Regions from separate parts of the Homo sapiens genome. Here region 2 is linked to region 1. The links come from fine-mapping of genetic effects on gene expression. A gene starts in region 1. The other region holds a variant in brackets. All regions are shown on one strand. Distances are from middle to middle.

Evidence for each region. PIP is the estimated chance that this variant, and not a neighbour inherited with it, causes the effect.
Region 2: its variant is the best candidate, but not a certain one, in a credible set for the expression of SMKR1 in whole blood (INTERVAL, PIP 0.72).

What each region holds. Positions count from the first base shown.
Region 1 is chr7:129,500,251-129,504,634 of GRCh38, forward strand. It overlaps SMKR1 (small lysine rich protein 1), which reads left to right and starts at 2,281. Exons shown (of 2, transcript NM_001195243.2): 1 at 2,281-2,577. The coding sequence starts at 2,575. RefSeq lists silencers at 1,980-2,029, 2,090-2,429.
Region 2 is chr7:129,533,832-129,538,215 of GRCh38, forward strand. No RefSeq gene overlaps it. Among named protein-coding and RNA genes, the nearest start is that of SMKR1, 33 kb to the left of the region's middle. RefSeq lists enhancers at 13-530, 531-1,048. The variant CAAA/C (reference allele first, on the strand shown) is at 2,026.

The DNA of each region.
Region 1 (4,384 bases):
CCACAGAGAAAAGGAAAGCTTTCTAATTTAGTACCTTTAGTGGCACTTTTCCCTGCTTCTTCCTGTTTTCATTTTGCACTAAGCCATGCAAATAATGCAGCCAGCCCTGCACCTGTGTAGCTACTGCCACAATCAGGATAGAGAGTATTTCCATCACTCAGGAATTTTCCTCTTAGCCCACCGCAGAGTCAATCCTCCCCCACCCATGGCACACCTCGACCACTGATCTACTTTCAAGACAGCTGAGTTTTAAAACTTGTAGCAGGAGGCCAGAGCAGTGGCTCACGCCTGTAATCCCAGTGGGAGGCCGAGGCAGGCGGATCACCTGAGGTCAGGAGTTCAAGACCAGCCTGGCCCCTGTCTCTACTAAAAATACAAAAATTAGCCGGGCGTGATAGCGCATGCTTTGTAATCCCAGCTACTTGGGAGGCTGAGGCAGGAGAATTGCTTGAACCCAAGGGGCAGAGGTTGCAGTGAGCAGTGATCGTGCCATTGCACTCCAGCCTGGGCAACAGAGCAAGACTCCATCTCAAAAAAAAAAAAAAAAGAAAAGAAAAGAAAAAGAAAAGAAAAGAAAAGAAAGAAAACAAAACAACCTTGTAGCAGGGCTCTGGATCTCTGATCTGGAGCTCAGGAAAAGCAGGGCTGGAACAGATTTGGGAGTGATCCCATAGGGGTAACCTTGGGAGAGCTGAGATAACCCAGAGAAGTGTAAGCGGCTGGGGTGGGCCAGCCCCATCCAGGGATGAAGACAGGCGCAAGAAGAGAAGAAAGTGCAGGTGGAGGGCAGGAGAATTTGCCATATCCAGGGCATATGGACTCATAAGAAAAACTCACAGACATATTAAAAGTAGCTGGAAGTTGGGTTTGCTCTGTTAATGAAGGATTAGGGAAAGCATATGTAAGAGAACCTAGAACATAAACAGTCCTCTTTGGAAGCCAGTTTGTCTTTCAAGAGAAAGCAAACAAAACACCACATCCTTGCAGAGCCTTCCAGGACCCTACTCCTGCTTCTTGGTCTAGCCTCCTCCCCCTGTCCCTAATTTTGGCATAATTGACTGCTCCTTGTCATCCAGATCTGTTTTAACGTCACCTCCTCAGAGAGGCCTTCCCCAGTCACCAATCTAAAAGAGCACCCAGTGGTCACATCAATTTAATGCAATATGCCATACTGTCCCTATCACTTTTAATGTCTGCCAGGCCCTCCATTTCAGCCACGACCACCTCCCCCAAATCACCCCTTAAAAGAACAAGGACTTTGCCTCATTCAGAGCTCAATTTCCAGGGCCTGGAAGAGTGTCAGGCACGTGGCAGATGCTCAATAACTGTTGAATAAAAAGGAATGATAGGCCGGGCAGTGGCTCACGTCTGTAATCCCAGCACTTTGGGAGGCTGAGGCGGGCAGATCACCTGAGGTCAGAAGTTCGAGACCAGCGTGACCAACATGGCGAAACCCCATCTCTACTAAAAATACAAAAATTAGCCGGGCATAGTGGTACGCATCTGTAATCCCAGCTACTCAAGAGGCTGAGGCAGGAGAATGGTTTAAACTTGGGAGGCGGAGGTTGCAGTGAACCGAGATGGCGCCACTGCACTCCAACCTGGGCGACAGAGAGAGACTCGGTCTCAAAAAAAAAAAAAAGGAATGACCAGTCATAAAAAAGAATGAGTCGTACCACCCGAAGTGTAGACTTCACCTGCAGGGAGGGAGGCTGGAACTGGCAAGGTTGGAGGCAAAACTGTACCTACTGTACCTTTCTCGCCCAATCCTACCTGCACATGAACTCCCTCCCCACCCCTTTAGTCTCTCGGGCCCTTACTCTCTTTATCCGGCTCTTTTGCAAACATTTCCCATGATATTCTCCCTTCACCGTCACAGTCCTTATGCTCGTTTCCCAAAAGAGCTTCTCCGATGATCTCTCCCAGGTTGGCCGAGTGAGCGGGCCTAGCCTGCGCTCTCACCCCAGTGCCACCCCAGTGGGAGCGCCGCCCGCGCCCGCCCCCTCGCCCCGCGCCCGCCCCCTCGCCCCGCGCCCGCCCCCTCGCCCCGCGCCCGCCGCTCCGGCAGCCCAAACCCAGACGCTAAAGCGCCGAACTGGGTTTCCGGGCGCTGGAGGCCGCGGTCGGCCTCGTACTAGGTGACGGCCCATCCCGCGCGCGCAAGCCCGGAACCCCGCTCCGCTCACCCTCCGCGCGCTGCCGCTTTGCCCTGGCAACGGTAACCACGGCGAGGCCCTGCCCCACGCCCGGTGATTGTGCGCGCGGCCCCGCCCCCGAGGCGCACGCCGGCCCAGCGCCCACAGCTGCGGCGGCCTAGGTGCCGCGTGGGGCAAGCAGGTGCCTCGCGTCCAGGCGGCTCCGCGGCTGGCTGCCTCCCGAGCCGGCCGCGCTCCTCCCAGCGAGGCGTGGCGGGGAGGCGTAGTGAGGCTGGGCCCGTGGCGGTTCCCTGAGGAGGGCCGAGAAGGGGCCGGGGGTGCTAGGGGAACGGGCGCTGGGGGCAGCGGCCCCGGTGGATGCTAAGGGCTTCGGGATCGGGAGAGTCCACCACGCCTGCCTGCTCGGCTGAGAATCGCCATGGTAATCCCCGTCTCCCTAAAGTACCCGGGGCCAGGGCGCGCGCCGTGGAGCCCCAGGCTGTCCCGGAGAGGCGCGGGCGCCGAGGTCACCGCCTCTCCCTGGGGTCGACCTCAACGCGTGGCGAAAAGATGGAGGGACAAGGGGTGCCCGGCGGTCCGCGCCTGCTGGGGGCGCAGCAGCCGCGGAGTCAGGCCAGCCGTCTTTCCAGGTTTTAGGTCGTGGTCCTGTTGAGCAGCCCCCACACCCAGACGGTTGATGTGGAAAATAAAGGGAGGGTGGCACCGTGGTGTGGCACGTCAGGGCGCCAGGCCATGCCCACAGTGACGGGTCCGAGCTGTTAGCTGCCGTAGCCACCCTGGGTGCCCGCGCGGGATTCTCCACTGCTCTGCAGACTCAGGAAGCAGAGAGTGAGCCTGGTACCACCACCTTGCTGTCAACAGCATTCCTGTTCTCAGCCCTCATCCAGTCACTTACGACCTCCTTCCAACCCTCGCTGCTCTTTCCAGAAGGGCTGTGACCTTCCAGCCCCTGCCCCAAGTCCTCAGGGAGGCATCATTGTCTGCTAAACTAAGTACTGCACGCTTGAGCTGGGCGCACAGAGCCCTTGCTAAAGGGGCCTCAACCTCGAGCTTTCTCTGCCATATCTTCTCTGCTAAACAACAACAAACAAAACGAACAAAAACCCTGCATCCCACACTAAACCCGCGTTCTTCTGGAAGCCCCTTGCGCCTTCCCTGTCTTGATCCGTTTTCTTTGAGGCTTGGATCAGAAGGACCCTGCCTCCTGCTTCCCCATCGCTCCTTCAGCGCCCACAGCCCTTTGCACCTCACCTCTGGTGCTTTGCCTGTTTTTCCTTGGAAAGCCTTATTCCTCATTAGACTCTAGTGTAGAAATCATTAAGTTTCTGTGTTCTTTCCAGTTTGTTTCGTGTAAAAGGATTAAGTAAAAATTTCTTGGTTTGAGAGTCATTCCATGAGCTATTAAAGGTAAAGAGCTATTACCTTTTTTTTTTTTTTTTTTGACAGGGTCTTACTTTGTCACACAGGCTGGAGTACAGTGGTGTGATCACAGCTGACTGCAGCCTCCATCTCTGAGGCTCAAGTGATCCTCCCGCCTCAGCCTCCCAAGTAGCTCGGACCGTAGGCAGGCATCACCATGCCTGGCTAATCTCTGTATTTTTAGTAGAGACAGGGTTTCGCCATGTTGCCCAGGCTGGTCTCAAACGCCTGGGCTCAAGGGATCCGCCCGCCTTGGCCTCTCAAATTGCTGGGATTACAGGTGTGAGCCACTGTGCCCAGCCAACTGCCATTTCTTTCAGGGCCCAGGGAACTGAGGCAGAATGCTGTACATAGCCATTGAAGCAAATGCCAGTTAATTCATGCTCCTTGAATGAGGGTCAAACACATTAGTGCACAGAGCCTGCAAGCCAGAGCGGAACCTTGCCTACCTTTCCTTCCTTAGCTGCTCTCACTGGCCCCCTTGGCTGCCTGTGGGCTGGCCATGTTGGCCTTTTTTGGGTTTCCGTCTCTTTGTGCACCTTCTCTCCGGCTTCAGAGACTTTGCATAGGCTGTTGGTCTTGGAATTCCCTACTCTCGGCCCACAGGCCACGCTTAGGGAGCCCTTCCTTTGATGGCCCAGATGAGGTCAGCCCTTGCCCATCTTGTGCTATTATAATTCCATGTGTTATAGGCATTATAGGGTCTTTCTTTATTAATTTCTTTGTTTTTGTTTTTTTTTTTTTAGAGATAGGGTTTTGCTTTGTTGCCCAGGCTGGAGTGCGATGGCATCATACATAGCTCACTTTGG
Region 2 (4,384 bases), 34 kb after region 1:
TCGTATATACATGTATCTTATTGGTTCTGTCTCCCTGAAGAACCCTAACGCAAGTGTGGAATCCCCATGATGGGATTAGTGTCCCTTTCACTTGCGTAAAGAGACCACCAAACAGGCTTTGTGTGAGCAACAAGGCTGTTTATTTCACCTGGGTGCAGGCGGGCTGAGTCCGAAAAAGGAGAGTCAGTGAAGGGAGATAGGGGTGGGGGCCGTTTTGTAAGATTTGGGTGGGTAGTGGAAAATTACAGTCAAAGGGGGTTGTTCTCTGGCAGGCAGGGGCAGGGGTCACAAGGGCTCAGTGGGGGAGCTTTTGAGCCACGATGAGCCAGGAGAAGGAATTTCACAAGGTAATGTCATCAGTTAAGGCAGGGACTGGCCATTTTCACTTCTTTTGTGGTGGAATGTCATCAGTTAAGGCAGGAACAGGCCTTTCTCCCCCGCCCACCCCCAGACGGAGTCTCGCTCTGTCGCCCAGGCTGGAGTGCAGTGGCGCAACCTTGGCTCACTACAAGCTCCGCATCCCGGGTTCACACCATTCTCCTGCCTCAGCCTTCTGAGTAGCTGGAACTGCAGACACCCGCCACCACGCCCGGCTAGTTTTTTTGTATTTTTAGTAGAGGCAGGGTTTCACTTCACTGTGTTAACCAGGATGGTCTCGATCTCCTGACCTTGTGATCTGCCCGCCTCGGCCTCCCAAAGTGCTAGGAGTACAGGCATGAGCCACCACGCCTGGCCAAGAACAGGCCATTTTCACTTCTTCTATGATTCTTCAGTTACTTCAGGCCATCTGGATGTATACGTGCAGGTCACAGGGGATATGATGGCTTAGCTTGGGCTCAGAGGCCTCACAGTCCCTTTAAGAACAGGCACCAGAGAGCTTGCCCTCTCTCTCCACGTGTACACACGAAGAAGGGGTCACGTGAACACAGCAAAATGGCGGCCACCTACAAGCCAAGAGAAGAGGCCTGGGAATGAAATCTCCCTCCTCTGGCCAGGCGCGGTGGCTCACACTTGTAATCCCAGCACTTCGGGGGGCCAAGGCGGGCGGATCACAGTGTCAGGAGTTCGAGACCAGCCTGGCCAATATGGTGAAACCCTGTCTCTACTAAAAAAAAAAAAAATACAAAAATTAGGCATGATGGCGCGGGCCTGTAGTCCCAGCTACTCAGGAGGCTGAGGCAGAAGAATTGCTTGAATCTGGGAGGCGGAGGGTTGCAGTGAGCCGAGATTGCACCATTGCACTCCAGTCTGGGCAACAGAGCAAGTTCCGTCTCAAAAAAAAAAAAAAAAAAAAAAAAACAAGGAAGAGAGACCTAACTTGACACAGTCTCTTGCCCTTTCACCATGCGATGCCCTTCACAGTGTTACAAAGCAGCAAGAAGGCCCTTGAAACATGCCGGCGCCATGCACTCAGACTCCCAGCCTCCAAAACTGTAAGAAATAGTTTCTTATCTTTATAAATTATCCAGTATATGGATTTTGTTATAGCTACAGAAAACAGATGAAGACAACAGGCTATGTGGTTAGCATAGTGCCTAGCATGTGGTAAATACACAATACATGTTAGTGTTCTCAAGGACTAATTAAGGAATGTGTCACTGACACAGCCTGCTATTCAGACTGTGGGTTTGCTTTCTTCCTACCTTCAAGTTTGTTCCCACATACAAATCCTGTGAAGTTAACTATTTAAAATTCTCAACAGAAACTTAATTCTGTACATCAGAATGGAAAGTTTAAAGTCAAAGCCAGGCATGGTGGCTCACACCTGTAATCCCAGCACTTTGGGAGGCTGAGGCAGGTGGATCACCCGAGGTCAGGAGTTTGAGACCAGCCTGGTCAACATGGTGAAACCCCATCTCTACTAAAAATACAAAAATTAGCCGGTTGTGGGGGCAGATGCCTGAAATTCCAGCTACTTGGGAGGCTGAAGCAGGAGAATTGCTTGAACCCGGGAGGTGAATGTTGCAGTGAGCCGAGATTGTGCCATTGGACTCCAGCCTGGGCAACAAGAGCAAAACAACGTCT[CAAA/C]AAAAAAAAAAAAAAAAAAAAAAAGTCGAACAAACTGACAATTAGGACTATGCAGAGAGTGCTGAAGAAGTGTGCGTTAATGTCCTTGAGCTCAAAGACCTTCCATTTTTCAAACATTTAGCTTTGAAAGAAAGAATAGATGCACAGACCTTGAGTCTGAAATAGCAGGGAACATCAGTTCAGCTGGCACTGCCCTGTCACAAGGGGCTGTGGGGCTGGGGTGTGGGGGTAGAGTGAAGCACAGCTCAGGAAATGGTTACAATTTTGTGGTAGGAGTGATAAGTTTGTCCTCAAAGCTGAAGGTAAGAATATGCGTTTACAACAGATCTGCTCACTTCAGAATGGCAATGGTGCAACAGAATCTTAAAAACAACAACGATGCACATTTTCCTCAAAATAAAATTCGAAGAACAAATGAAATGGAACTCCAGTGGCGTTCTAGGTCCCAGGAACTCAGGACTTCTTGCCATTCCATTGTTAAACCCTCTGAACTCTTCTGAGGCGGTCGCCGTGGGCATGGGTTTTGTTTTCCATAAGACATTAAGATAAGTGCCACAAAATTCTCTTTGTTTAAATCTACTTCTGTTCTCATGGTAACGGAGGGTCCATCAGCACCAAAATATATAAAGGCACCAAGGCAGCGTGAAGATGTTACTACGACAACTGGAATTTAGAGGAGACATTTTTAAAGGCGTGTGGGAGGCTTTCACTTCGCTTTCTTCATGAAAGCCTGGGCAGGATGAGTCAGGCATTTTAGAAAACAGGGGTACGGGGGTACCCTGGGGTCTAAGGTCTGGGTGGTTCCACAGTCACAGTGCTGGCTGGGACATGGGATGACAAAGAGTGTTGGCTACAGAATTCTGTGAAATCTCTTCAGCGAAAGGTTGCTCTCTTATCAGGAATTATATAGAGAGATCTTTGTGTTGAGAGGAGGTGGGATTGAGGAGTATTTGCGGAGATGAACTCTAAATTTTAGTCTTCATGGAATTTGTAAATACAAGAAGACTAGGAGAAACAATCTTACATTTAAAAAGGTCCATTCAGGCCAGGTGCGGTGGCTCACGCCTGTAATTCCAGCACTTTGGGAGGCCGAGGCAGTGGATCACCTGAGGTCAGGAGTTCAAGACCAGCCTGGCCAACATAGTGAAACCCCGTCTCTACTAAAAATAAAAAAATTAGCCGGGCATGGTGGCACACGCCTGTAGTCCCAGCTACTCAGGAGGCTGAGGCAGGAGAATCGCTTGAACCCGGGAGGTGGAGGTTGCAGTGAGCAGAGATCACACCACTGCACCCCAGTTTGGGCAACAGAGTGAGACTTTGTCTCAAAAATGTAAATAAAAATATAAAAAAAATTTAAAAGGCCCATTCTCTGCCGGGCACAGTGGCTCATACCTGTAATCCCAGCACTTTGGGACGCCAAGACAGTCGGATCATGAGGTCAGGAGATCAAGACCATCCTGGCCAATATGGCGAAACCCCGTCTCTAAAATATAAAAATTAGTCAGGCGTGGTAGCGGGCGCCTGTAATTCCAGCTACTCGGGAGGCTGAGGCAGGAGAATCGCTTGAACCTGGGAGGTGGAGGTTGCAGTGAGCCAAGGTCAAGCCACTGCACTCCAGCCTGGGCGACAGAGCAAGACTCCATCTCAGGAAAAAAAAAAAAAAAAAAAAAAAGTCCATTTTCAAAGTAAATGAATAGTCTGTTCTCCAGTTTGGAATGTACAGGTACTACCAGGAACTTGAAAAGGATGTGACATTTCCATTTTCCTTTGAGGTTGTGAATTTATTTCTCATCCTGGGCCTAACAGAGCTAAAAATGTTGTCTTTGTTGTTATGTTTACTGTATATGCCTAATTTCAGTATTAGGGCTACAGCAGATCTGTGGACCAGCTGAGGGATGCCAGCCTTCTGCATGTGGCACCGGAAAAACCTCACACTCCGGGGTGAGCTCTGTGTCCTAGGCCCTCAGAGCCCCCTTCCAGTCCTTCGTGATGACTGCCTAGCCCAGCCAGCCCTCCCAGTTAATGGTGTTCATTTTCACCTGTTTGGGGTGATTTGACATTGCCCCCGTATCTGCCTGTTCTTCTCTGAAATGTCTCCTTAAGGCAGTCACTTCTGGCCGGGCACAGTGGCTCACCCCTGAAATCCCAGTACTTTGGGAGGCTGAGGCGGGTGGATCAGTTGAGGCCAGGAGTTCAAGACCAGTCTGGCTAACATGGCGAAACCCCATCTCGACTAAAAATAAAAAAATAAAAATTAAGGGCCAGACATGGTGGCTCTCGCCTGTAATCCCAGCACTTTGGCAGGCCAAGGTGGGCAGATCACTTGAGGCCAGGAGTTCGAGACCAGCCTGGCTAG